Linked DNA regions of Homo sapiens. The protein of the gene in region 3 purifies or fractionates together with the protein of the main gene of each other region. This does not show direct contact. Each region holds a gene or a part of one and is shown on either strand. Other genes may lie near its edges. The genes, in order: COPG2, COPZ1, COPB2 and ARCN1.

Region 1 (7,025 bases), on a different chromosome or scaffold from region 3:
GGGGCTAAAAGAAAGCAGGTTAAGCCCCAAATGTAACTGAATGATGACCAGGGATAACTATTTACTAGTGCTTTTATGATTTATTGTAACTCTGTAACTTTCCCAGTATTTGTTAATTTTTTAACTTCTGTTTCTCCTGTACTTACGAGCAGTAAAAGTTGTTCAAAACATAAATGTGATGTGTGTGCTTATTTCTGTGAAAACTGGGTAACAGTTACGAATATTGTGCACTGAACATGAGAAGAGAAGAAATCAAGGAGGAAAATGATGATGGGGGGAATCAAGTAGAATAAATACTTGACATTCACCTTCCCAAGTCTCCAAATAAGTAAATACTACTATTGGCACTAGTTGGCTGTCTTTTAGGGGCTATTTCTCCACCCTGCAAAGACTGCATATGGGTCAAGGAGGGAATTAAAAGCCCTTCTTAATGTGGACACACATGGTTGGCTAAGCTACTCACTAGGCTGAGACATGCTCTCAGACACCAGCCTTATGCTACAGGACCTTCAAAAATGATGTATTTTAAAATGCCAACAATCTACTACATAACCAAGTTCTATCTAACTAGATAGAAACTTTGAGGAGAAGAGGGTCAAGATTCTTCACAGGAGACCAGGTATATGAACTCTCACAAGTGGTCACATTATTCCAACAGAAAGCTTGAGTTCCTTTTTGTGCTACTGCTATACACACTCAGTTTCTCTTTTAAGATTAAGTGTTCAGCAAATTTTACTCAGAGATTTAGTTTTAAAATTAATATTTCTGCAGCAGTAAACCATTTTATAAATATATATATTCACACACACACAAACACACACACACAAACACTCATCATTAAATTCTAGAAAAGCATCACATTCTTAAACTGAGCATTTGAAGAGTTGAAGAGCTCACAAGGAAATGCATTCTGAATCACGTATCTCCTCCCTTCTGAGGGTTAGTACCTGCTGTAGGGTCATCATCAGGCAAACGAACAAGAGTGTAACATATTCCTGGTTGGTTATAAGGAAGGCTGGGGGCTGGGATACAAGACAGCACTTCATAGGAATCTGATGGCTCCATCTGCACTGTCACTTTTTCCAGCAGCTGGTCATTGAGAGTGTTGGTGCAGTCAAACTGAAAAGTCAGTAAATGGAAAAGCTGTGAAGGATAACAAGTTATCCTTCCTACTCATAACCCACTACTCAGCTCTGGAACCCACTATACCTTCTATCTCTACAGAGCAGGGTAGGTCTCCTCCTAAGATTCTTCTTTTGGCAACAGGGAGAGCCTTATTCTTGAGGTCTTTTGTTTATATTATTCATCAGTTTTTTCTCTTTCCTGAGACTGCTGTCTCAAACAAGATGGCAGAAGTCTGATGGCTGTCAAATCTAAGTTCTCAGAATAGCCCACTTAATCTACCCTGATGTTAAATGCTGATTTTAGAAAATTGGTTATACTTTATGTTGTCCAACTTCATCACACATTTCAGTTTTATGTCCTTTAGATTTTAACCATCAAAAGTTACCCATCACATGAAGGGATCTCTATAGCTCTGGTGTTAAGCAAGAAAACCAGAAATTCTGCCAAATTAATTCTCTATAATAGAAACTAGAATTATAGGTAAAGGATATTTGTCTCAAAGCATACCAGTTTATACTAAATCTCTACAGCAGCCAAGGGCATTATCTTACCTGGAACACGATGTGATTGGTAAACATGTGCTTGATACATCGAACAAAATATTCTGTCTCTGCTTCTGTAAGTTGAACAGGCTCAGAAGACTTGAACAAGGGTCCTATATTCAGAAACTCAGGAATGGCAGCCAATTGTTCTATCAAGAAAAAAGAACGTAGGCTATGAAGAAGACAGGGAAAGACTTCAGTCTGGATGCTTAAAAAATGCTTTAGTTGGCCAGGAGCAGTGGCTCACGCCTGTAATCCCAGCACTTTGGGAGGCCGAGGCAGGCGGATCACGAGGTCAGGAGATCGAGACCATCCTGGCTAAGACCATCCTGGCTAACATGGTGAAACCCCGTCTCTACTAAAAATACAAAAAAATTAGTCAGGCGTGGTGGCAGGCGCCTGTAGTCCCAGCTACTCGGGAGGCTGAGGCAGGAGAATGGCGTGAACCTAGGAGGCAGAGCTTGCAGCGAGCCGGTATTGTGCCACTGCACTCCAGCCTGGGTGACAGAGCGAGACTCTGTCTCAAAAAAAAAAAATGCTTTAGTTTCCATAGCCTTACTAATAGTTGAACATTCAACTAATATGTCCCCAAGTTTTAGTGAAGTCATCTTTCAAGTAAGTAAGCTTATATATTAATGAAAGCAAAAAGCAAAAAAAAAAAAAAAGAAAGTAAATACTTATTTTACAATGAGTTCCCTGTTAACCAACGAGATACAGAAAAGAAAAACATTCCCAATTAGCAATTACAAACTGGAAAGTTCATGGACTCCAGGTAGCCTCAGCAACTATACCCTATGGTGTTCAGCCACACGAAGATTTCCTATATTGAGAACCGATCAATTTGAGTAAGACTGGTAGACTTTTTATATTTACAATGCCTAGGGGAAAGATTATTACGTCTAACCATCAAATCATCATACCTTGGAAAATGTCTTGCCTGGAAGGAGCCAACTTCTCTGGCTTAGTAGCCACAAGTGTGATTTCTATAAAGACAGATATGAGCAAGTAAGTGAACTTCTCCCACTACTATCAAGCTAGCAATGCAGACAGAAAGAGAGGAGAGCAGACATTTCTAGCAGATATATAATGAGCTATTACTAGATCATACTTATAGGTTATCTATCACTTCTGGTGGGGGGACACTCAAATTAAAATGTATTTAGTGAACATATATTGTGGAATCATAAAGTAAGCCCTAAAAATATAGAGTTTGCTTTAAATGGACTGGAATGTACAAAAATTACTCAGAAAAGGAAAAACAATTTATTTTAAAAATCTTCTCATGATCAAAATAGGAAAAATTACTTATATCAACAGAAAAACTGAAAATGTTGAAAATAAGCATAAAATTGTTTCTTCCCAGTTTTGTGTTCTAACCACTAAACATTTATGACTTCTTTTGTTTTTGTTTTTAAGTTTTAAGATTAGATATTCTTTGGGAATATTTTTTATGATTGTCGCCCATAAATTCTTTTAAGACGAACCTCCAATAACAAAATCAATTAACTTAGAGATTATCAACTTCAGAAAATAAAAATAGGAGGCGACAGCACTATTACTGCTCTGAGATGCACAGTGGCAACTGACTTCAGATACTGTAATGCTTTGCATTAAAAAAAACCCTTCATTTTGGAGTGCATTTCATCTTACTGCTTTTATGTAAAAACCAGGAGTTTTTTTTAAACTCTAATAAAAATATGTCTTAAATCTAAAAGATTTAGAAGGGGTGACAATCGGCTGAGCACGGTGGCTCCCGCCTGTAATCCTAGCACTGTGGGAGGCCGAGGTGGGTGGATCACCTGAGGTCAGGAGTTCAAGACCAACCTGGCCAACATGGTGAAATCCAGTCTCTACTAAAAATAGAAAAATTAGCCAGGTGTGGTGGCGCATGCCTGTAATCCCAGCTACTCGGAAGGCTGAGGAAGGAGACTCGCTTGAACCCGGGAGGTAGAGGTTGCAGTGACTAGAGATCGCGCCACTGTGCTCCAGCCTGTGCGACGGGAGTGAGACTCTATCTCAAAAAAAAAAAAAAAAAAAAAGAGTGACAATTAAATGAGTATTAGAGAAAATATGCTAATATTTTTTAGTTTTGCAAAACTACTTATACACAGAAAAATGAATAGAGTGAACCTGCTTTCTGTTCAAAGACAGGAGCCATAGCAAGAGGAATTGATTTCATGTCAAACGGTTTTTCTGAAGGCTCCAACGTGTACTGGTGTAAGGCTTTTTCCATCCCTGGTACAGAGACCGTCAAACCTGTGAAACATAGAGAAATCTCAGCATTATAACCTCTTGCCAATCCTCGAATCCAAATAGGCCCAGGTTTGTAATATTTATCTAAGCTTTCTGAAGGAAGAGAAAAATATAACCAAAAGCTTTATAACCTAAATATAAAAATAAAGGATATTCTTGAAATTACCTTATAAACTTATAAACTGACTTATTTCATTCAAGGAAACATGGGAGCATAGCATACACATTTTCAACAAAATGTATGTACCTCCCAGAAAAGAAAGCAACTTAGCTATATGGGAACAATGATAGCATAAGAAAACGGGAAAAATGTAAACCCATCCAAGAGGGAGTTCAAGGAGAACCAGGAATAAGTGAGCAACGTTCCTAAAAAATGTAAGGGCCCAATCTATATTCTTATAGATTGCTGCATAGGAATTATCATTACCAAATTAGAAAATATCCTATAAACACAGGTTTCTCTAGAAATGGAAGTGCACTCAAAGACAAAAACCAAGCATTTGCCTAGTGAAGTTAGCTCATATGCAAATCATAAAATATGCTTCCAAGACACCATTTGAGGAACAAAAGTGTACATCCTTGGCTTTCACTGACCATTAAAGATATATGTGGCATTTAGTGCCATCTGCCTCTGCTGCAGCACATTCAGATAGAAGGTAGCTCTGTCTCGTACCTCGTCATCAGTATCCATCATACACCTGTCCAGGGGAAACAGAATAGTCATGTCACAGTACCCCAAAGACTTCCAATAGCTCTACTACCAAATCTAAAGGACACAGCTCAGGTCGTCATCTGATACTACCTTTAAAAAAGTGCTCAACAATAGCCAACAGTGGCTCCTAAAGTCTTCACAAATCTTGGGTACTGCTCTGAATTACTAAAGAAATACTGCTACTGTGAATCACAAGCACTACATAAGTAGGCATTAAAATAACGAGGAGCACAAGAACATGAAATAGCAGTCTGGAGTCTTTTCTTCCATCTGTAACTACATGACCCTGTTGAAGACTTAGACTTCTCTGTAATTAGGAAATGGGAGTATTATACTCTCCAAGGATACTGAAAAGATAAATTCAAAATCCAGCCACTGTTTTTGCTCAAATGACAATTTGTTTTACGTAAACTAGCCAACCTTTGGCTTGTAATTTATCTGCTTCAATTATAAGATGCAATCACAGTTTGCTAAAGCAAGTCTTTTCCTCATCAAATAGAGTCATGAAGACAATGAAAAACTATTATTTTTAACTCTGCATAGTGAATTACCTAACAGTTTTTTTAAGTAAGCCCCTGTTGTACAAATTGAGGCAAATGTATTTAAGTCACTTTCTCAAAATCATGTGAGAGAAAGCCAAAATCAAATGTGACATGTACCTAGCAAATAAAACCCTATGGAGAACTAATATTTTAGGGAATGGGGCTGGGAAGAGAAGCTCTATAAATAAGAGTGAGGAGTGATGGAAACATGTAGGCTATTGTGTAAACCAAGGCTAGGGGCTTTCATGAAGTGATCAGTCAATAGCACATCAAATTGATTGGGAGGTATACATAATTACTAAAAAGAGAAAGGAATTGCCATTTGCCCCTGACTTGCTCCAATAACTCTACTCTTAGGGCTTAGAGTGCATCCGCCCTATGGTAGAATGAGGATTTCACTGTTTAACCATATAGAATTCTTATTTTTTTTTAGAAAAGACATTATTTAACTTACCTCTGTAAGAGTACAAGGATGCTTGGGAGAAGACTCTCATTCTGAGCCCCAAATTTAGCCAAAGCACTCACAGCAGCTATAATGAAGCATACAATTATGGTACATAAATATTGGTTTCTCAGAGTTAACCAATAACCATTTGAAAAAAAATTAGAAAAGTGTCCCCATGTTCAGTGGAGATAAACTCCCTTGTTTTATTGAGTGTTTCTTGATCTTATTTCTTTGATACTGTTAAGCATAAATAGAATTCTGCAAGCCCAAGAGAGCTCTGAATAGGAAAATCTTCCAAAAATTGAGGAAAAAGATTCATATAGATTTTCTGTAGGAGCTATATCTCCACCCCACCACAACCCCTTATATATCACACTGATGTCATTAAGCTCTAATCTCAAACAACCAGCCCCAAGCATAAAAAGAAATTCTATTATTAAAATTCCTCTCATTCAACAAAGATTCATTGTTCACCAAACTTTTGTCAGGAATTGTGCTAGGTACTGGGACAGATAAAAGACATGTCCCTGATCTCAAGGAGCTACACTCTAGTGGGAAAGATAGGTATGTAGAGAGACAATTACAAGACATCATAGGTAAGTCCATGGAAGAAATATATCCAGGATGCTATGTGAATACACAGAAAGGAACTAAATCCGAATTGGTGGTGGAAAACTAAGACAAAGAGTTAATACATATTACTTGAGCTAAAATCTGAAGACCAAGTACTGTTAGCCAGAGGAAAAAGGCAGGATAAGAGTATTAGAGGCAGAGAAAATAACACGTTCGAATGGCCCCTGCCCAGAGAAGAAAGTGTGGTGTATTACTGGACAGTTGGGCAAGGCTGAGCAAAGGACCCATGTTGGAGAGCAAGAAGAGACAAGGGAGAGACTGGCAATAAAACAAAATTAGGGTATGGTTTAATCTCAACATTATTATTAAAGGATATTAAATATGAGATAAATTTGTACATTTGAAAGTCCCCCCCGCCTTTTCTTTTTTTTTTAGCAGAGTGTAAAGAATAGGCAGGATATATGTGAGTCTAGAAGCAGTCAGATAGCTAGGGATCTGAAACGGATGACAGCCTCAATCAGCACCAAGAAAATAGAAGAGAATGAAGAAATATTAAGGAGACACAATTGAAAGCGCTTTGCTAAAGAACAGATAGGGGCTGTAAGGCAGCAGAACAAGATTCTATCTTGATAACTGAGTGGATGATGAATGTGAGGTTAGTTTGAATTTCAGGTTGAGTTTGAAGTGCTTTAAGTTATTTGGACAAACAAGTTCAGGAAAGAGACATGACTGGAATGTCACAGCCTATTAGCAGAGCTCTGAAAATGATCACCAAGAGGAATGTAGATGTTGAGAAGTCAAAATCTTACAGAGAACTAATATTTTAAGGAATG
Region 2 (7,362 bases), on a different chromosome or scaffold from region 3:
AGGCTCGTGCCACCACGCCCAGCTATTTTTTTTTGTATTTTTAGTAGAGACATGGTTTCACCATGTTGGCCAGGCTGGTTTCGAACTCCTGACCTCAAGTGATCCGCCCACCTCAGCCTCCCAAAGTGCTAGGATTACAGGCATGAGCCACTGCACTGCGCCCGACAGAGATACTTTCACATATAACTCCCCCAGCTTACCCACTACACACAGGCCCATTGTTAAAAGGGCTCCCCAATTATTATCTTCCTCATTCCTTTACCTTTAAGCAGGCTCCCTTCTAAACATATATAGGTAAGTCTAAAAACTTCCAAAAAAACCAATTCCCTAGAATCTATCCTAGTCTGCTAATTGGGTTTAGGGGGAGGTTTTTTATTCTTATTTTTTTAGAGACAGGGTCTGGCTTTGTCACCCATGCTGGAGTGCAGTGGCACAATCATAGCTCACTGCAGCCTCAAACTCCCAGGCTCAAGCGATCCTCCTGCCTCAGCCTCTTACAGTGCTGGGATTACAGGCATGAGCCACTGCACTCAACCTCTTGATTAAGAATACTTGCTGCCGGGCACGGTGGCTCACTCCTATAATCCTAGCACTTTGGGAGGCTGAGGCAGGTGGATTGCCTGAGCTCAAGAGTTCAAGACCAGCCTGGGCAACACAGTGAAACCGTCTCTACTAAAATACAAAAAAGTTAGCCAGGTGTGGCAGCACGTGCCTGTAGTCCCAGCTACTCGTGAGGCTGAGGCAGGAGAAATTGCTTCAACCCAGGAGGCAGAGGTTGCAGTGAGGTGAGATCACACCACTGCACTCCAGCCTGGGTGACACAGCGAGACTCTGTTTCCAAAAAAAAAAAAAAAAACTTGCTAACTGGCCGGGGTGCAGTGACTCACACCTGTAATCCCAGCACTTTGGGAGGCCAAGGCAGGCAGATCACTTGAGGTCAGGAGTTCAAGACTAGACCAGCCTGGCAAACATGGAGAAACCCTGTTTCTACTAAAAATACAAAAATTAGCTGGGCATGGTGGCGCGTGCCTGTAACCCCAGCTACTCAGGAAGCTGAGGCATGAGAATTGCTTGATTCTGGGAGGCGGAGGTTGCAGTGAGCCAAGATTGCACCACTGCACCCCAGCCTGGGCAACACAGCCAGACTCTATCTCAAAAAAAAAAAAAAAAAAAAAAAAAAAAAAAAAAAAAGAATACTTGTTAACTGCTTGGTACAGAAAATATTTAAAACTACTCAGATTTTAAGCTTTTTACCTATATTTGACCAACCGACATAAGGAATTAACTGTCTTTAACTGAAAGAGAGGAATTAAAACCTGTTATTCTTTTATCTGATGAGGATCTGAATGTGTATGCTTAGGAGATCTGAAGGAAAATAAAAGACAAGCTTCTTTGGAAAGAGGCCTAGAGTTCAAGCCAATTAAGGAAGAAGGCTGGGAGTTAAATTCCTACACTATACTACCTACCTACCTACACACACACACACACACACACACACACACACACACACACCCCTCCAAATCGCAAAATAGGGCACTTTTGAGAGAAATTCTCTGGTCCAGTTCTAAAAAGGGGTAACAGGTATTTTATTTGTTAGAACAAGCATAAAGCATCATATGGACAAGAGGGCTAATACAGCCCTTTAGCGACCACAATTCTCATGTAACCAGAGAGGGAGAAATTAGCATCCTAGATCATACAATAAGAATTCCTGGCCCGGCGCAGTGGCTCACGCCTGTAATCCCAGCACTTTGGGAGGCCGAGGCGGGTGGATTACGAGGTCAGGAGATCGAGACCATCCTGGCTAACACGGTGAAACTCCGTCTCTACTAAAAAATACAAAAAATTAGCCGGGAGTGGTGGCGAGCGCCTGTAGTCCCAGCCACTCCGGAGGCTGAGGCAGAAGAATGGCGTGAACCCGGGAGGCGGAGCTTGCAGTGAGCCGAGATCGTACCACTGCACTCCAGCCTGGGCGACAGAGTGAGACTCCGTCTCAAAAATAATAATAATAATAATAATAATAATAATTCCTGGCCAGGCGCGGTGGTTCAAGCCTGTAATCCTAGCACTTTGGGAGGCCGAGGCGGGCGGATCACTTGAGGTCAGGAGTTCGAAACCAGCCTGGCCAACATGGTGAAACCACGTCTCTACTAAAAATACAAAAAAAATAGCCGGGCGTGGTGGCACGCGCCTATAGTCCCAACTACGCGGGAGGCTGAGGCAAGAGAATAGCTTGAACCCGGGAGGTGGAGATTGCAGTGAGCCAAGATCGCGCCACGTGCGCACTCCAGCCTGGGTGACAGAGCAAGGCTCGGTCTCAAAAAAAAAAAAAAAAAAAAAGAATTCCTAAGGTCTAAATGGGTAGAGAAAAGGAGAACAGAATAAGGAGTCTAGAAAAAATATTCCACAATCCATGCTAACTTTATCAGGTATCCCAGAACTTTGATGGAATACTGATTATTTGACAAACCTATATAATAGGGATTAACAGGAAACCGAAGACAAAACAGTTTCCTGAAGGAATGTGGCAGGGAATCGGCAATGGAGAGTCAAACTTGGGAAACCATCAGGAGGAGTCTGTAACGACAAAACATCTGTATTCTTTTCTTACAATATGGGGCGAGTTTGGTGGTTTGGTAAATTAAAATCAGGGTATCATCCACAATGCTAAAAATAAGGGGCAACCTGAAGGGTCCTAATCCAGTACGCCTACAGGTCTGTGTATCCTAAGGAGTCCATGTGCTGCCTTCAACTTTCCACCGACTCTATGCCCTCTCCCCGGCAGGGCTTCCTACTCTAAACCAAGGCTTTAGCTCCTACACTAGGCCACACACTTATTCCAAAGGTCAGCAGAACGCTCAGTCCCCAAGAATTACCCGGAACTCTCTTTCCCCGTCTCCCACTCGGGCTGAACCCTGACTCCCGGCCCCTGTGGACACCACAGCATCTCTGCTGCCCCTCCAGCTCCTACCAAAATCAGCGCCTCCATCTTGCCCCGCAGCTGGTGCCGACGTGGAGCCGCAAAAGAAACGCCGCCGCTGATTGGCCATACGTTCCCATTAGGCCCCGCCTAGGATAAGGATCATTGGGTAAGGCTTGCTTTATTGGCCAATTATTGTACTAGCTTGCTTACCGGAAGCAAAGTGTCCAACCAGAAGGCTCAGGTGTTTGATTGTCAGCTTGAATACTCAATAAAACGCCAAAACCTCACGACTCATTGGGGCGGGAGGGTTAGTGGGGCGGGGTTGTTTCCATGGGGAACAGAAGAAGCGATTGTTAATTTTCAATTGGTAGGGCCGAGGACACGTGATATTGTCGGACTGATTTAGCGATTTTTAAACCGCACCCTCTTTAGGGGGCGCTGTGTCTCCTTAGCCTTTAACACTGGCGCTTTCTAACCGGAATCCTGCCCTAATCCCTATTTTCAGCGCCCGCATTAGGTCCATGATCTCTGTGGCTAGCCCTTCCCTCATGCTCGCTCAGGTCACTTCAGCATCCTCACAGAAAGTCTGCACAACCATAGAGTAGAGCCAAGAAAGGCCCAACATGTTAACTACATAAACCAAGGCTGCCAGGAGTTGATAGTCGCAATAACAATCTCCCTAAGGTGGAGTTCCAGGCTTTGCTGGGCCTGAGGAACATGAGAAGTCAGTTTGTAAAGGCCAACTTGAGCTCAACGTGAAATCGGCTTTGGAGATGGGGTTTGCGGGACAAACGGGGAAAGGGATGGGATTAGAATAAGAGAGGGGTTATAGGGAGTAAATTCTGGGGTTTTCCAATAGAAACAAGCCGTTGTGCCTGGGCGCGGTGGCTCAAGCCTGTAATCCCAGCACTTTGGGAGGCCGAGGCGAGCGGATCATCTGAGGTCGGGAGTTTGAAACCAACCTGACCAACATGGAGAAACCCCGTCTCTACTAAAAAAAAAAAATACAGGCCGAGCGTGATGGCTCACACCTGTAATCCCAGTACTTTGGGAGGCCGAGGCGGGCGGATCACGAGATCAGGAGATCAAGACCATCCTGACTAACATAGTGAAACCCCGTCTCTACTAAAAATACAAAAAATTAGCCGGGCGTGGGTGGCGGGCGCCTGTAGTCCCTGCTACTCTGGAGGCTGAGGCAGGACAATGGCGTGAACCCAGGAGGCGGAGTTTGCAGTGAGCTGAGATCGCGCCACTGCACTCCAACCTGGGTGACAGAGCGAGACTCCGTCTCAAAAAATATACATATATACAAAATTAGCCGGGCGTGGTGGAACATGCCTGTAATCCCAGCTACTCGGGAGGCTGAACCAGGAGACTCACTTGAACCTGGGAGGCGGAGGTTGAGGTGAGGCGAGATCTCGTCATTGCACTCCAGCCTGGGCAACAAGAGCGAAATTCCATCTCAAAAAAAAAAGAAAAGAAAAGAAAAGGAGAAGAGAAGAGAAAAGAAAAGGAGAAAGAAAGAAAAGAAAGAAAGAAAGGAAGGAAGGAAGGAAGGAAGGAAAGAAAGAAAGAAAGAAAGAAAGAAAGAAAGAAAGAAAGAAAGAGAAGGAAAGAAAGGAGAGGAAAGAAATGAGGCGTTGCAAAATGAGAAAAGAGAAGTTTACTGAATGCAAGAATTTCACAATAGGGAATGATTTTGATGAAGCTTGGCTTTCCCCTATCCCTTGGTTTCCTGATCCCTGACTCCTCTTAGGGCAGGGACACCTATTACCTTAATTATCCTAAAGGGATTTTTTCCCTCATCTCTGAAAATTATATCCTTAGGAGCCCTCCAAGAAGAGATTCCAAACTTACCCAGGAATTTTTCTTTTTTGAGACGGAGTCTCGCTCTGTCCCCCAGGCTGGAGTGCAGTGGCTCAATCTCGGCTCACTGCAAGCTCCGCCTCCCGGGTTCACGCCATTCTCCTGCCTCAGCCTCCAGAGTAGCTGGGACCACAGGCGCCCACCACCACGCCTGGCTGATTTTTTGTATTTTTAGTAGAGACGGGGTTTCACCGTGTTAGCCAGGATGGTCTCCATCTCCTGACCTCGTGATCCGCCCGCCTCGGCCTCCCAGAGTGCTGGGATTACAGGCGTGAGCCACTGCTGCACCCGGCCTTTTTTTTTTTTTTTTTTTTTTTAAGACGGAGTCTCTCTCTGTCGCCAGGCTGGAGTGCAGTGGTGTGATTTTGGCTCACTGTAACCTCCGCCTCCCGGTTGCAAGCGATTCTCCCTGCCACCTCAGCCTCCCTTGTAGCTGGGATTACAGGCGCCTGCCACCCCTGGCTAATTTTTGTACTTTTAGTAGAGACGGGGTTTCGCCATACTGGCCAGGCTGGTCTCGAACTCCGGACCTCAGATGATCCACCCGCCTTGGCCTCCCAAAGTGCTGGGATTACAGGCGTGAGCCACCGGGCCCAGCCACCCAGGAATTTTTCTAATAGTCGGAGTAGAATCAAGGAAACATAAAACAATACAATACAAGGGCGCTGTGGCATGTGCCTGTAGTACCAATTACCCCAGGGGCTGAGGCAGGAGGATGCTTGAGCCCAAGAGTTCGAGGCCGTAGTGCGCAGTGATTGTGCCTGGGAATAGCCACTGCATTCCAGCCTCGACAACACAGGGAGACCCAGTCTGTATATAAAAATAAGATAAAATAAAAAATTGAACAATACAATGCAAATTATAGACCTACAGTGTACTCTGACAGAAGGTGAATTTCTGGTGGAATACCAGGTGTTAAGCCTTATATCTGGAAGAAGTGAAGGCTTGTCCTTTTATTCCTCAAGGAGAGTTGTTCACACATTTACTGTGCCTGGCATCACAGTCAGTGGGTTGTCATTGGCTTTGCAGCTTAAAGGTAATACTAACATTTACTGCCCACTTATTATGTGCCAGGCACGGTGCTAAATCTTTAAATACATTATTGAATACATTTTTTAAAATCCTTATGAAGTAGCTGGGCATGGTGGCTCATGCCTGTAATCCCAAAACTTTGGGAGGCTGAGGCAGGCAGATCACCTGAGGCCGGGAGTTCGAGACCAGACTAGCCAACATGGTGAAACCCCGTCTCTACTAAAAATACAAAGATTAGCTAGGTGTGGTGGCAGGTGCCTGTAATCCCAACTACTCCGGAGGCTAAGGCAGGAGAATCTCTTGAACCCGGGAGGTGGAGGTTGCAATGAGCGAGATCCTGCCATTGCACTCCAGCATGGGCAACAAGAGCAAAACTCTGTCTCAAAAAAAAAAAAAAAAAAAATTCCTGGCCGGGTGCGGTGGCTCACACCTGCAATCTCAGCACTTTGGGAGACCGAGGCGGGTGGATCACGAGGTCAGGAGTTTAAGACCAGCCTGGCCAAGATGGTGAAACCCCGTCTCTACTAAAAATACAAAAAATTAGCCGGGCGCGGTGGCAGGCACCTGAAATCCCAGCTACTTGGTAGGCTGAGGCAGGAGAATCGCTTGAACTCAGAGGGCAGAGGTTGCAGTAGCCGACATTGCATGCTACACTCCAGCCTGGGTGACAGAGTGAGACTCCGTCTCAAAAAAAACAAATAAAATAAAAAATCCTTACGAAGTAGATGATTATTAAACCCATTTTACAGATGAGCAACATGGAGTTTAGAGCAGTTAAATAATTTACTTAAGGCTACAGAACTGTTTTAGCAGCCATACGTTTGAGCACAGGAGACTCTAAACCATGTTCTTACCCACAGTCCACTCCTCTAGTTTGTTGTACTGCCTCTCTTGCATCCCAGTCCTACCTCAAGGACTCTACCTCAGTGCCAGATATTCTACAAGGACCATAAGGAGGAAAAAGTGTGGTATGGTTGGTTCATGGGGATGGTTGGCTCCTTTTTCTGTGTAGTAACTGACAAATTTTAAGTCAGATATTGTTGCAGAAGATCGCTTGATTCTTAGCTCTCCAGCCTGTTGGGGTAATTGTGCTGTGGGAGGAAGACAATTGACTGAATTAGAGACATTAGTTATTGTTGTGACTTTGCTTTAATCAGTGAGAGAACTCTGCAAGTCTCTGTACCCTCTCTGGATGGACTATAGCTGTCACTTCTGGAAAGGGGAGAGGTTCAGACCAGAGCTTTCTAGGGCCCTAGCTAACTTTTTTTTTTTTGGAGATGGAGTCTCGCTCTTGTTGCCCAGGCTGGAGTGCAATGGCACACTGTCGGCTCACCGCAACCTCTGCTTCCCAGGGTTCAAGTGATTCTCCTGCCTCAGCCTCCCGAGTAGCTGGGATTACAGGCTTGTGCCACCAGGCCCAGCTAATTTTGTATTTTTTTAGTAGAGACGGGGTTTCTCCATGTTGGTCAGGCTGGTCTCGAACTCCCAACCTCAGGTTATCTGGCTGCCTCGGCCTCCCAAAGTGCTGGGATTACAGGCGT
Region 3 (7,025 bases):
ATTATAAGATGCCCAGACCTGCTGTAAAATAATTTTAAAGCTCCACAGGTTTAGACTTCACTGTGCTAGAAACTCCTCTCTCACAAGATGTTTGGTGACTTACAAATCTTAAGGGAGAAATTCAACTGACAGTTCGAATTACAAATAAGAAACAGAATTATTATCAATCCCAAAACTTTTTCAAAAGACACATATCTCAGAGTCAGGTTTTCTTCTTGAAAGAGCAATGAGTCAGCAAGCATTTAGAGAGGGCACCTACTAAGTCTCAGCATAAGACATACTCCTTGCCCTCAAAGGAGCACACAAAAACACAAACTCAATGCATGCGAAATAACAGGAAACTACTATTTAACTATTCAAAATTGTGTGGTATAGAACAAGTCCAGATGGGAAACATGCTCCATCTTTTGTGCCAACTTGATCAAGTGGCATGGCTGACTGCAGCTGTGTTGAGGATTGTGAGGCCAGGGCAAAAGCACATTGAGGAATGATTAGAGATGCCAACCACAGGGCAAGAGTGGACTGTGGATCTGCAAACCTGTTCTAACATACACAGAAGCTGAGGGACAATTTTGGTGATGGCTTACCGCCCATTAGGATTGTGCTGAATAGTCTGAGGGTATATTTCACAACTGCCCATATCCTTTACTGCCAGTGGCAATCTTTCACCATCTTTAATTTCAGCATCTCCCATTGCTTTTAGGTTGGCCTGCTGGACTTCTGAATGCTTGGCCCAAATTATCTTTCCATTGGCATCCATGGACATGGCAGGTTCCTCCCGACCAAGCTGAAAGAAAGAAAAATAGCTCTCAGCAATGAAAAGGAAAATGAATAAAACCAAAACAAAACAGATTATTTTTTTCACCTAACAGAGAGCTCCATTTCCTTTCTTCCACTTTAAATCTTCATTGCTTAATGTCTAGTGCTTAATGAAAGAAGTGCCAGTTTTATAAAACTGGTTACTTGGAAGATGACAGTACTAAAATACAAAGAAAATGGTTTTGCCTATGTCCACCTACTGAGAGGGATAGTATAATTACCTTAACAATGATGCTCCCTTCATCATAGCCCAAAGCGACATTGTTTGACCCTCTTAGACTGGCCACGCACCATACCCTCTCCATTCCATAATTCAGTGTGCTCTCAAGCCGGTAGGTGCTTGAATGCCAAATACGTACTGTTCCTAAAAAGAACAATGTAAATACTCCCTTTTGATACAAACATCCGACAATAAACTGTGTCAGGTGAAAGAGACCCATAGAAGTCTTTCTATTCAAACAGATAACACTTCCTGGCAGCTTAATGACCAATTTTTTGACCTACTGTCTTTAAATGATTTTTAAAAGCAACATAAACATAACACATAACATATAAGAAACAAAAACTAAGAATTACGATTTTAAACATGAAATAATAACAGGATTTCCTGGGTAAAGTGTTTCCTATGTGCCAGATGCTTTCTACCCACAATTTCTTCTCACTATAATTTTATGAAGCAGATATATATGTTTCCATTTCATAATTTGCCCAAACACACATTCATGACATAACAGAGCCTGATTTTGAACCCAGGTTTGTTTGACTCCAAAGCACATGCTTTTTCAGTTTCTCTTTAGGACAGCTGACGGTCCTCTTATTTAAGTGACAGAATCAAAATACATGAGAATGATGACGATGATGATGATGATGATGATGATGATGATGAAAATAATGCCCCTTTACTCTTTTATAGCTTAAGTCTGGTACTTTAATAAAAATATCAAAATCCTTGGAAACCTACAATTATAATGCAGAGACATTACTTGCTTTAAATGCCCACTGAGTAGTTACTAGCACAGGAATAAACATACCCTTCTAACTTACCATCTTCTGAACCTGTGATAATGATTGGCAACTCAGGATGAAAGCTGGCACAAGACACATTTTGGGCATGTCCTTCCAGTGTCTGCACACATGTTTTATTCTGTAATTAAGACATAGAAAACATGTTTTATTAATGAAAAACATGTAACCAGCCCGCCCTTAATTTTCTCAGTGTACAGATACATTATAAATGATAGTAGTCATGAAAATCTAAATAATATCCAATATAGAAATTTTTGAAATAGGATGATCTTGTTGTATATATGAATATTTTATCTAATTACTTTGTAAAATAAATGTAAATGTAACTATCACATTTAAAGAAGGGGAAAAAAACCCAAGAAGGCTTTTGTCTGAATATTATTCCCCCAAATTCTCAGGATAATAGATTTCCCCCTTAAAACTCACACCTACCATCACTGGCTAAGTAGACAGTGCTGCTTTAGCCTTTAATATTTTTATTCTGGATTTAAGTACAAATCTGAAAATGTTTCAAGGAAAAACTGACTTTCTAGACCTCATTTTATTAATTGCTTATGGGAACTTTTGATGTGGAAAACAAAAATATCAAAATATAAGAAAATCTTAGAGATAGGAAGCATGTTAACAAGAATTCATAACTAGGTTTACAAGAGTACGATTTGGCAAAATGGTTGGTAATTGTTGATCTGCTAGCTTACAAAAATGAATAGAAGTCTATCAATGAAGATTATGGAGGATAATTCAACATTAAAATGTTAAAATTTCTAAATGCAATTATGAAATGAAATATGAACATGTTGGTATTTTATTTTTAAAATCTTGATATGCATTGTTTTCATTTTTATGGAGAATTCTGGGAACACAGTTTAGGTGCAAATACTGATACCTTAAGTTATTATGCTGTGAACAGTTTTCAACAACCCAAGTCTTAACTGTCCTATAAGAAATAGTAAGAAACATATCTAACATATGGAAGTAAGGTTATGAAAAACTGTACCTGATAATCCCATATTTTAACAAGACGGTCATCTGCACCTGAAATGAGGTATGGCTTGTCCCCACCACTGTAGTAATCAATGCAATTCACGCCTTTCTCATGTCCTTCCAAAGTGAAGTTTGGTGACGAAGAGCCCAACTGCCACACCTGCAGAGAGAAACAGCATCGGCCAGTCAATATGGGGCCTTGCTTTACAAAAGGCAAATCCACCATATTTCTGACACATTATGTAAAATGCCAAAGCCCAGGAGAGAAGAGCTATCAAATTTTATTTTTTATCCTGTTTGGTTTTTGTTCTTTCTCATTTTACTTGAATTTTCAGGGAGCAAAATCACTATGGCGTTCTTTAAAAGAAGTGCCAATTTCCAGGCTTTATCTCTAGAGATTATAAGTCAGTCAATCCACAGTGACGCCCAGGAATCTAGATGTTATGAAATTATTTTATTATAGATTTAATATACAGCTCATGAAAGTAGATTTAGTAAGATATATTAAAAGTTGCTGGGTGTGGTGGCTCACACCTGTAATCCCAGCACTTTAGGAGGCCGAGATGGAAGTTATCACTTGAGCCCAAGAGCTCAAGACCAACCTGGACAACACAGCAAGACCTTGTCTCTACAAAAAAGTAAAAAGTAAAAAATTAGCTGGGCATGAAGGCACACGCATGTAGTCCTAACAACTCAGGAGGCTGAGGCAGGAGGATCGCTTTAGCCCAGAAGTTTGAGGTTACAGTGAGCTGTGATCATGCCACTGCACTCCAGCCTAGGCAACACAGACCGTAACTCAAAAATACATAAATAAATAAATAAAAATAAAGGCCTATTAAAAGGAGAAAATTACTGCCTAATTACCAATTTAAAGTGTAGAAAATTGTTAAAAATTACCACAGCACAGAATTAAGCTTTATCTTTACAAATATTTATTGAGTGCCTATTATATGGGAGGCCCTGTGGGGAGTATAAACGTGTAACAAATGTTTATCAATTACTGTATAAAATAAACTTTATTGGAACTGAAGATAAGACAATTATTGTTCTCAAGATAAACCTAAATTAGTAAAAATAAAAGTTTACAACTAATTTCAAAGTTAATCTATGTCAAAAGCAAGGATAATCCAATCAAAGGCAAAATAGCTAAGGTTAAAACCCTAAGATATTCAGACACATAACATTTTACATAAAGGAAAACTACTAACAGTGTTTTATATAGGTGAAAGCAAACATGTAAGCAAAAGTTAATTTATTTTAAGTCAATGCATATGGAAATATTTTAATTAATTAATTAATTTATTTATTTATTTGAGATGGAGTCTCGCTCTGTCCCCCAAGTTGGAGCGCAGTGGCGCAATCTCGGCTCACTGCAAGCTCTGCCTCCCAGGTTCATGCCATTCTCCTGCCTCAGCCTCCCGAGTAGATGGGGCTACAGGCGCCTGCCACCACACCCAGCTAATTTTTTGTATTTTTAGTAGAGACGGGGTTTCACCGTGTTAGCCAGGATGGTCTCGATCTCCTGACCTTGTGATCCACCTGCCTCGGTCTCCCAAAGTGCTGGGATTACAGGCGTGAGCCACCGTGCCTGGCATGGAAATATTTTAAATATTATGATAAAAAAAAGAAGCATGATTGCCCTCACTGCAACATGTATTAAGCATCTAGGTCAGGTAAGGCACTTTGCTGTTTGCTATTGAATGGCTGGGGAAAGGGAGTGACACAGTTTCTATCCCCCAAATCCAGTATTTCAGGGGATAAAGATTTCCAAAAACGTGTAATAATAATTCAATCTGAGAAAGGCTGAAACAGAGGCAAAAAGCAATGGAAGAAATGGGATAAGCATAACTGGCTCTGTCTAGAGGTGAAGTTGATGTCTGACAAGAGGTTCTCAAGAGTAAATATTTGTGCTAAACCTTAAAAGCTGAGTAATTCTCCGGAGGAAAATATATCAAAATAGGAAAATAAAGAGAAGTGCAGGAAGATGGAACAGTTCAATGAAGTAAGGTTTTGTGAACATTCATAGCCTCTCTAGAGGATGGTGAGTAGACCAGGGTTTTAGGAGATGTCGCATAATATTAGCCCAGGCTAGTCCTGGAAATCCTTGTATTCCACACTAAGGCATTTGGACTTTATCCTTAGATCAGGAACTGTTTCAGAAAGATAACAGACAGCAGTGTGGTAAAATGGAGTAAGAAAGAGAGAATAGAGGCATATGGAATTTAAATGTAAAATAGATAAACGATGAGCAGAAGTCAACAATGAATACTAAAAGGAGAGGACAGTAGTATCCTAAAAAGATATTGGCATTTTTCTTATTCTGGGTTTCCAAAGGCTAAAAAATTTTTATAACATGCTGCCTCCACACAGAAAAACGCTCCTCATTAAGAGCACTGAGTTGCCACAATATTTTTCTAAACAGAACATGTCGTTTGGATTAAAATGAGAAATCCTATTTTGACTTCAAAACAGGCTTTTGAGGAAAATTTTTAAGATGGGTACATTTCTGACCAGTCAACAGTAAAACACCTAAGGCAAGTATAGTTCACTAATAATGATAACTGACACAAAATGTGGATGCCCTACCTTGATAGTCCTGTCCAAAGAGGCACTGGCAAACTGATTGTTATCTTTGGGGTTGATCACAATCTGCATAACATAATGGGTGTGTCCTTCAAACACTTGTGAGCAAGACCATTTTTTATCCCAGTCCCAGAGCTTAATAAGCATGTCATCTAGGCCAAAAGAAAGTCTCAAGTTAGTTGTAATTCTATTTTTTCACTTCATAACTAAGACACAGTCTTTAGAAGAAGCAAACCTAACACAAACCATATAATCCATGACTTACAGAAATAGAATCAAAACCAAATAGAGTTTTCAAAATGCTTATTTATCTTAAAAATAAATTTAACTCTCTACAGAAAAGTGGAGATAAAATAAATAAAATAGATTAGAAATAGAAAATATAAAAATTCTGTGAAAAAACTTAAAAATTCAGTGGGCATTAAAGAATGGCCAAAGAGTAATATAAGTTTGACTAGATCTAAGCATGACTGAATAGTGATAGCAATGACTATGTAGAGAACAAGCATTTGCCCTCACAAGATTGGTTTTTAAAAAGTTTTTAATTACTTCTCAATTTTTAATTTAAAAACATTTCAAAGAGCTATTACTAATTCAGTGCTACCTCTTTTTCCAGTCCTCCAAGAGGTCTACTATTTATACACAATACCAAGGAGCAAACTAGTTTGAATATAAAGATTGAACTGAATAGGGTCTATGGCAATCTGCCAAAAACTCACTCATCAACATGTAAATGACCTTTCTGTTCAGCAGATGTTTAAACATCTAGACTTGTAGGTCTTCTCTGACAGGAACTGGAGCAATCATTACACAAATCCTAAGTACAGTTGATATTTCATTATAGTACAAACACAAGCAGCATCAATAGCACAGTAATGGATCTAAATAGTTTAAAGGCCGCTTGGAATTAGAATTATATTTGTAACAGCAGTTAAAGCATAGCATGTCTCAGTGAATGAAAATGAATTACCCAAAGAGACGCACATGACCAAAAAAGGTCATCTCTTACCACTGCTAGTTAGAATGAAAGGCTGGGTTGGATGAACAGCAATACAGCGAATGTAGTCTGAGTGTGCTTCAAACATATGAACTCTCTCCAGAGTATTGTAATTGAACACTCTAATCTGCATGTCATCCTAGAAACAGAAATTTTAAAACCATCATCCCTGTTATCAAGTAAATTATACAAAAAAACTATATCACAGGCTCAAGGAATAAAGTCTATGCCTCAAAACATTGCTGTAAATAACAAAACAAATCGGGAATCAAAATCCTGCAACAAATTTACACAATCATTGACCAATTCAGAAAATGGGAATAGAGATTCATATTAATTACTTACCGCTCCTGTCACAACCCAATTCTTCCTTGCAACAAACTTTGCAGCTCGAACAGGAAGATCACATACTTCAAATGTCTTCACCAGTGTCTTTAAAATGTAACAAGAATACACAAATTGAGCTATAAGAAAATAACCACAAAATCTACTCTGTTATATTTCAAACATCCAATTTTTAAGATCACTTCTCATTTTAGTATATTCTCAGGCTAAAATATAAAAGCTCAACATTCAAATTTTTAAAAAAGACCAACTATCTTTTAATAGATTCGAA
Region 4 (7,025 bases), on a different chromosome or scaffold from region 3:
AGCCGGGTGCAGCGGCTCATGCCTGTAATCCCAGCACTTCGGGACGCCAAGATAGGCAGATCACCTGAGGTCAGGAGTTCGAGACCAGCCTGGCCAACATGGTGAAACCCCGTACAAAAATTAGCCAGGCATGGCGATGCACATCTGTAATCTCAACTACTCGGGAGGCTGAGGCCAGAAAATTGCTTGAACCTGGGAGGTGGAGGTTGCAGTGAGCCGAGATTGCACCATTGCACCACTGCACTCCAGCCAGGGCAAGAGCGAGACTCCGTCTTTAAAAAAAAAAGAATCAGGGTCTTGCTGTGTTGCCCACACTAAAGTATAATGCCTGTGCACTTGAACTCCTGGCCTCAAGCAATCCTTCTGCCTCAGCCTCCTGAGTAGCTTGGACTACAGGCACATGCTACCGCACCTGGCCTTAGCCTTCATTTTAAGCAAGACTTTGGCATAAAGTCTTAAAAGGTGTGTGTGTGTGTGTGTGTGTGTGTGTGTCTGTCTGTCTGTCTGTCTCTGGATCAGTAAGTCTTACCTAAGTCTTCATTTTAAGCAAGACTTTGGCATAAAGTCTTAGAAGAGGGGTGTGTGTGTGTGTGTCTGTCTCTGGATCAGTAAGTCTTACCTAAAAAACATTACCTAAAAAGCATAGCCAAACAAGTGTCAGAACTAGAACGGCAGATTAGAACAACTGCTTAAGAACTGGGAAATGAAACAGTAGTTCCCATATTCTTTTGAGACATCTATAGTCTAAGAGGACACCCAATAAATGTCTGCTGAATAAACAAGGTGCTGCAGCAATAAGTCGCTGGGGTGCGGAGTAGGAACCTGCAAACTGGTTAGCATCAGCTGCTTTGGAGGAAAAACTAGTTTCACATAAAATGTAAAACAAAAAGTGGAACCCAGTATTATAGCAGTACTCTTACCACTCTTGAGAAGAGCCTTAGGGTCTCCAAATCTTCTAAAATGTTGCTGTTTTTGGTAGTGATCAGTACCATATACAGTTTCTCCATAGGCTGGTAGACATATCTTACACTCTCTGTTTCAACAAACGTATGTTGTTTTCCAGTGTTCATGAGCTTTGGAAAAGCTGCTAATAAGCCCTCAATCCGAGTTCGGGTCATTTCCACAAACTGTCGAGAAACAATAGCCTTTCCTGCTTTTGTGCAGACCGCTGCTGCCAACAGCACCTGCCAGGAACATATGCATAAGTAAGTACTAATTATTTCTTCACATCTGTTTTCTCAGCATCTCAGGAAATGTTCCATAGAATGACATATTTATTTAGTGACATGACTAGTAGTAGTATTATTTTTAAGACAGGGTCTCACTCTGTCACCCATGCCGGAGTGCAATGGCAAGACCACAGCTCACTACAACCTCAAACTCCTGGGCTCAAGAAATCCTGAGTGGCTGGGACTACAAGTGTGTGCCACCAAGCCTCGCTAATTTTTAAAAAGCTTTTAGTAGAGACAGTATCTCGCTATGTTTCCCAGGCTGGTCTTGAACTCCTGGGTTCAAGCGATCCTCCTGCCTTGGCCTCCCAAAGTGCTGGGATTATAGGCGTGAACTACCACGACCAGCTGACATGACAAGTAATAGAATACTGACTTTCACGGGCACAGTGGCTCACACCTGTAAACTCAGCACTTTGGGAGGCCAAAGCGAGTGGATTACTTGAGGTCAGGAGTTCGAGACCAGCCTGACCAACATGGTGAAACCCCATCTCTACTAAAAATACAAACACATTAAGAGACTTAGACATGTCAATCAATCACAATGTATAAATCAAATTTGAACAGTGACTGAATAATTGATAATATTAAAAATTATTGCTAATTTTTTAGGTGTGAAAATATGCTATCATGGTAATATATTTTTATGTAAGGAATACTTATATATTTTTAAAAAAGAGTTGTGTAGTTTTGAATCCTTCCATAGTCTCTCATATTAAAGGTGCTCCCTCAATGACTTTATATTGAACTAAAATAATTGTCTGGGATACATCTTATCTTCAAACTACGCTAGTTTTGCATGTAGTACTAACAAAAGGTCACTGGATTTAGTAATTATCCTGAGGATCAGAATTCACAATTTCTTTCTTTTTTTTTGGAGACAGGGTCTCACTTTGTCACCTAAGCTGGACTGTAATGGTGCAATCTTGGCTCACCGTAGCCTCAACTTCTGGGCTTGAACAATCCTCCTGCCTCAGCCCCCTGAAAGGAGCTGGGACTATAGGCAGGTGCCATCATGCCTGGCAAATTTTTGTATTTTCGGTAGAAGTGGGGTTTCACCATGTTGCCCAGGCTGGTCTTGAACTTCTGGACTCAAGTGATCAGCCCACCTTGGCCTCCCAAAGTGCTGGGATTACAAGCATGAGTCACCACGCCTAGCCAGAACTCACAATTTCATGTGTTGAATATCAGTTACAAAATATTCCTTTTAAAAGCAACTATCCTAATATTATATAAATGGGTTTTTATGACTTGGGATAAAATTTCCCAAACTGCCAATATATCACACATGGATTCAAAACTGCTAAATACCAAACTGATGATTCAAAAAGTGGCCCCAGTGATGACATGATGTTCATAAAGAATCTAGAAAAAATTGTTTTATTAATATGAAAATGGAAAAAAGTAATTATTTCTAAATTAAACTTTATTTATTTAAAACATATACATATAAGTGAATTATTAACTATTTTAAGAACATATTTGACTATTTTTGCTACCTTTTTTTTTTTTAAGATGGAGTTTTGCTCTTGTTGCCCAGGCTGGAGTGCAATGGCAAGATCTCCGCTCACTGAAACCTCCACCTCCCAGGTTCAAGTGATTCTCCTGTCTCAGCCTCCCGAGTAGCTGGGATTACAGGCGCCTGCCACCACGCCCGGCTAATTTTTTTTTTTTTTTTTGTATTTCTAGTAGAGATGGGGTTTCACCATGTTGGTTGGCCAGGCTGGTCTCAAATGCCTGACCTCGGGTGATCTGCCCACCTCGGCCTCCCAAAGTGCTGAGATTACAGGCATGAGCCACCGCCCGGCCTATTTTGGCTGCATTTTAAAAAGTTTATACAATTGGCAAAAAGCTTTCCTTCTTAATAGTTTCATCAGAAAAGTAGGGAATTCCCTTATATTTGGGATCATTTCACATTGGTTTCTCCTTTTCCTAAAGACTTAGAACTAGTGTCCCAAATTTGCAAAGAACCAAGCTGATATTAGAAAAACTAAATGACTGGGAGTGAGAAAATCTATTTTCTAGTTTTGTTCTTCTATTTACTATCTGCCTGACCTTCAGTTACCCAACCTCTCTTAACCTCGTTTCTTTTCCTATAAAATGCAGCATTATCTAATGACCTTACAAGCTATTATGAGGGCCAAATGACTATAATGAAACTGTACTTCAGAAGTGCTATACAACTTGTAGCACATATATTCATGATGTAAAACAGCACCATTAGTAATAATAAACATGCATCTCATGAAAAAAATTTATGCCACTTCAAGGTAATGGATTTTTCTTTTTTTATTAAAAAAAAAAAAAAAAAAAAAAAAAAAAAAAAGAGAGACGGGGTTTTGCCATGTTGCCCAGGCTACAAATTCCTGGGCTAAAGTGATCCGCACACCTCAGCCTCCCAAAGTGCTGGGATTACAAGTGTGAGCCACAGCATCCGGCCAAGGCAATGGATTTTTGCCTTTGTCAATATTTTGATATTCAAATAATGAATATTGACTCTCCCCCCAAAATTTTACATACAGTTTCAGGGAATGCATCGATCCTCTAGAGAAGTTATTTCAAATGGCCCATAGAAAATCCCCTCATGCGATGAGAAATATTATTAATAAATGGGAGCATATTGTAAATGTAATCCCTGTAGAGCCTCCTATCCCTAAAAGGTTGAGAGTCATAGCTCTAGGAAGTCATGGTCCTCTATGTTAGAATTTTATGAGGTTTTGAAGAAATAAGACAAATCAAATGAACACCTAAAGAAAGGACAGCTCAGACCAAAACTTCAGACCTATATAAACATGCTGCATTTAATAGAAACCCCATATCTAATAATAAACCTGTTAGAAACAATGTTTACAGGCTCAAGGGTAGTTCTTAGGTTTCCAACTGGAGTTAAAAACACCTCTATACCATACAAGTAAAATTTAGGTAAAAACATCAAAAGCAACTTGAGAGGGAAAAAGGAACAAAAAGGTGTATGTTACTATCCACTTTATTTATTTATTTATTTATTTATTTATTTATTTATTTATTTATTTATTTTTTGAGAGAGTGTCTCACTCTGTAGTCCAGGCTGGAGTGCAGTGGTGCCATCTTGGCTCACTGCAAGCTCTGCCTCCTGAGTTCAAGCAATTCTCATGCCTCAGCCTCCTGAGTAACTGGGACTACAGGCACAGGCCAGCACCACCAAGCCTGGCTAATTTTTCTATTTTTAATAGAGACAGGGTTTTGCCATGTTGGGCAGGCTGGTCTCCAACTCCTGGCCTCAAGTCATCTGCGCGCCTTGGCCTCCAAAGTGTTGGGATTACAGGAGTGAGCCACTGCACCTGGCCCATCCACTTTACTGATGAGCATGTTCAAAAACTAATTATAGGTACTGGTAATCTCCATTTTTGCGATATTATAAGAATTAACTGAGTAATTATTTATCGAACATCTACTATACATACAACATGCTTTCTGAGAATTAAGATGACACAGGCTAGCATTCTGCCTACAAGAAGCTTAATAGGGATAAGACACAAACACAAATAACTGTAATATGAGGCAGAATGTGTTAAGTAACATGAGAGAGTAACCGATAAAGTGCGTGGAAATTCAGAGGAAGAGATTACTTCCAGCTGGTACAGTCAGGGATGACTTGATAGAAGAAACAGCATTTAGGCCGGGAGCGGTGGCTCATGCCTTAATCCAGCACTTTGGGAGCCAGGGCAGGCAGATCACCTGAGGTCAGGAGTTCGAGACCAGCCTGGTCAACATGGGAAAACCCTGTCTCTACCAAAAAATACAAAAAATTAGCCAAGTCTGGTGGTGCACGTCTGTAGTCCCAGCTACGGGGAGAGTGAGGTGGGAGGATTGCTTGAACCTGGGAGGCGGAAGTTGCAGTAAGCCAAGATCATACCACTTCACTCCAGCCTGGGCTACAAAGTGAGACTCTGCCTCAAAAAAAAAAAAGAAAGAAAGAAAGAAAGAAACAGAATTTAGATCATGCTTTGATGAATTCCAGGATTTGTTTGTTTTGAAACAGAGTCTTGCTCTATTGCCCAAGCTGTAGTGCAGTGGCGTGATCTTGGCTCAGTGCAGCCTCAACCTTCTGGGCTCAGGTGATTCTCCCACCTCAGCCTCCCAAGTATCTGGGACTACAGGCACAGGCCACCACACCTGGCTAATTTTTTGTATTTTTCTGTAGAGACAGGGTTTTGCCATGTTGCCCAGGCTGGTCTCAAACTCCCAACCTCAAGTGATCTGCCCGCCTGAGCCTCCCAAAGTGCTGGGATTACAGGCATGAGCCGCCACACCTGGCCAGAATTCCAGGCTTTCAGTACGTCAAGATGAAGAAAGAAGTAGGGTAAAATCATATGTCTCTCTTTGAGTCATTCCATTATCCAGATACAAGCAAAACAAGGCTTCCAAAATAGGACCATAGTTCCCCATACTAAGTATAGCATAAATCTCCGAACACCCAGGACACCACAAATTACAGGTTCCAGGCAGTTGACACAGGTCTCTCTGTTACAGCTACTAATATGGCTAGAAGGTATGGTCACCTCTAAACATGATAAATTTATCCTATCCTAAATTAACATTTGTCTTCTTAAAGTTCTTGAAATAATAAACCTCTTTACATTAATGTTTACTGGTTTAACAATTATTAAAATATAGCATATACTAAAAGGTAAGTTAACAATTTTCCCTATTGAAATTTGATCTGATTTTCTCTGAGGAAGAATTAATAAATATGATTACAAAGTTTTTGGTTTTTTTTTTTTTTTTTTTTTTTAACATTTTTGGAAAAAACATTCCAGATCTAAAAGGAACTTGCAAGAGCCCTTGATTGTCTTACAGATGTGAAAACTGAGGGCCCATAAGTTAGATGATCTCTCCAGGACGGTTAAAAAAAAAAAAAATTCCCTCATAAAGTTGAGCTTTGCCAAACAACTTTTAATAATTCTTACATGGTTTGAGTACACTATCTTTGGACTAAATAACAACTCTCTCCTACACAGACTTAACTACATGAATTGTTAAGTGCCTCAAGTAAAAAAACCTGGAGAATTAGGTTTCTGTTCTGCCTTTGCCACTAATTATGTGACCTTGGATAAGTCACTTAATTGATTATTGAAATATCCCTAACATAGGAGGTTAGTTTACATGAAATCCAAAGTGCTCTGTGTCTTTAAAGTTCTGTAAGTCTAAGCATTTGAAAACTACAGTAACAGAAAAAAAAAAAAACAACTACAGTGACAGAAAATGTACAATACTTCCATTTTATACCCACTGCTCCAGTTCTAACCACTTTGGAACAATATTTTATAGTAACATTAGGCTGCCAGAAGGCAAATTGTCTAACCATAACAAATTGTGTGTGCAAGAGAGATACAAGAATAACAGGTGGTATAATAATTCAGGATAAATATGCACAACTCTCTCTCAAAAAAAGTCAAGTTCTTTCTTGAATCTCTAAATGCTTCAGGATCCCTTACTTCCAGAATTATAGTCACCTTCTCCTTTGTAATTCACCGCAATATTTTATACACATATACATGCACACACAATTCATGGTCATATTAAGGCTAGTTTCTATAATTGTCAGGGAGGACTGTTCTGTCTTTTCTATTTATATGAAGCTATTATAGATAAAATCAGAGAGAAGATTACAATAAAATGTAGACCACATACGAAACCTAAAACTTGAAAAGTAATTTACTCAGTGAGGGTTTTAAGTCCATCACATTTCTATTCTAAAACAAAAGCTTGCAGAGAATTAAAACACACACACACACACACACACACACCCGTTAT

Evidence for each region.
Region 1: the proteins of COPB2 (region 3) and COPG2 fractionate together in Homo sapiens (co-fractionation; 4 studies listed by BioGRID and IntAct, with this or other methods). This does not show direct contact.
Region 2: the proteins of COPB2 (region 3) and COPZ1 fractionate together in Homo sapiens (co-fractionation; 6 studies listed by BioGRID and IntAct, with this or other methods). This does not show direct contact.
Region 4: the proteins of COPB2 (region 3) and ARCN1 fractionate together in Homo sapiens (co-fractionation; 5 studies listed by BioGRID and IntAct, with this or other methods). This does not show direct contact.

What each region holds. Positions count from the first base shown.
Region 1 is NC_000007.14:130,546,727-130,553,751, forward strand, and holds part of COPG2 (coatomer subunit gamma-2), read right to left. Parts: intron 5,705-7,025; coding exon 5,629-5,704; intron 4,619-5,628; coding exon 4,515-4,618; intron 3,924-4,514; coding exon 3,798-3,923; intron 2,651-3,797; coding exon 2,588-2,650; intron 1,817-2,587; coding exon 1,677-1,816; intron 1,120-1,676; coding exon 948-1,119; coding exon of another isoform or gene 916-947; exon of another isoform or gene 1-915. UniProt on the Homo sapiens protein: The coatomer is a cytosolic protein complex that binds to dilysine motifs and reversibly associates with Golgi non-clathrin-coated vesicles, which further mediate biosynthetic protein transport from the ER, via the Golgi up to the trans Golgi network.
Region 2 is NC_000012.12:54,320,791-54,328,152, reverse strand, and holds the start of COPZ1 (coatomer subunit zeta-1), read right to left. Parts: upstream 3,023-7,362; 5' UTR 2,990-3,022; coding exon 2,972-2,989; intron 1-2,971. UniProt on the Homo sapiens protein: The coatomer is a cytosolic protein complex that binds to dilysine motifs and reversibly associates with Golgi non-clathrin-coated vesicles, which further mediate biosynthetic protein transport from the ER, via the Golgi up to the trans Golgi network.
Region 3 is NC_000003.12:139,372,626-139,379,650, forward strand, and holds part of COPB2 (coatomer subunit beta'), read right to left. Parts: intron 6,842-7,025; coding exon 6,755-6,841; intron 6,549-6,754; coding exon 6,422-6,548; intron 5,565-6,421; coding exon 5,416-5,564; intron 2,990-5,415; coding exon 2,843-2,989; intron 1,964-2,842; coding exon 1,864-1,963; intron 1,184-1,863; coding exon 1,041-1,183; intron 788-1,040; coding exon 588-787; intron 1-587. UniProt on the Homo sapiens protein: The coatomer is a cytosolic protein complex that binds to dilysine motifs and reversibly associates with Golgi non-clathrin-coated vesicles, which further mediate biosynthetic protein transport from the ER, via the Golgi up to the trans Golgi network.
Region 4 is NC_000011.10:118,575,405-118,582,429, reverse strand, and holds part of ARCN1 (coatomer subunit delta), read right to left. Parts: exon of another isoform or gene 5,532-7,025; intron 1,185-5,531; coding exon 921-1,184; intron 1-920. UniProt on the Homo sapiens protein: Component of the coatomer, a cytosolic protein complex that binds to dilysine motifs and reversibly associates with Golgi non-clathrin-coated vesicles, which further mediate biosynthetic protein transport from the ER, via the Golgi up to the trans Golgi network.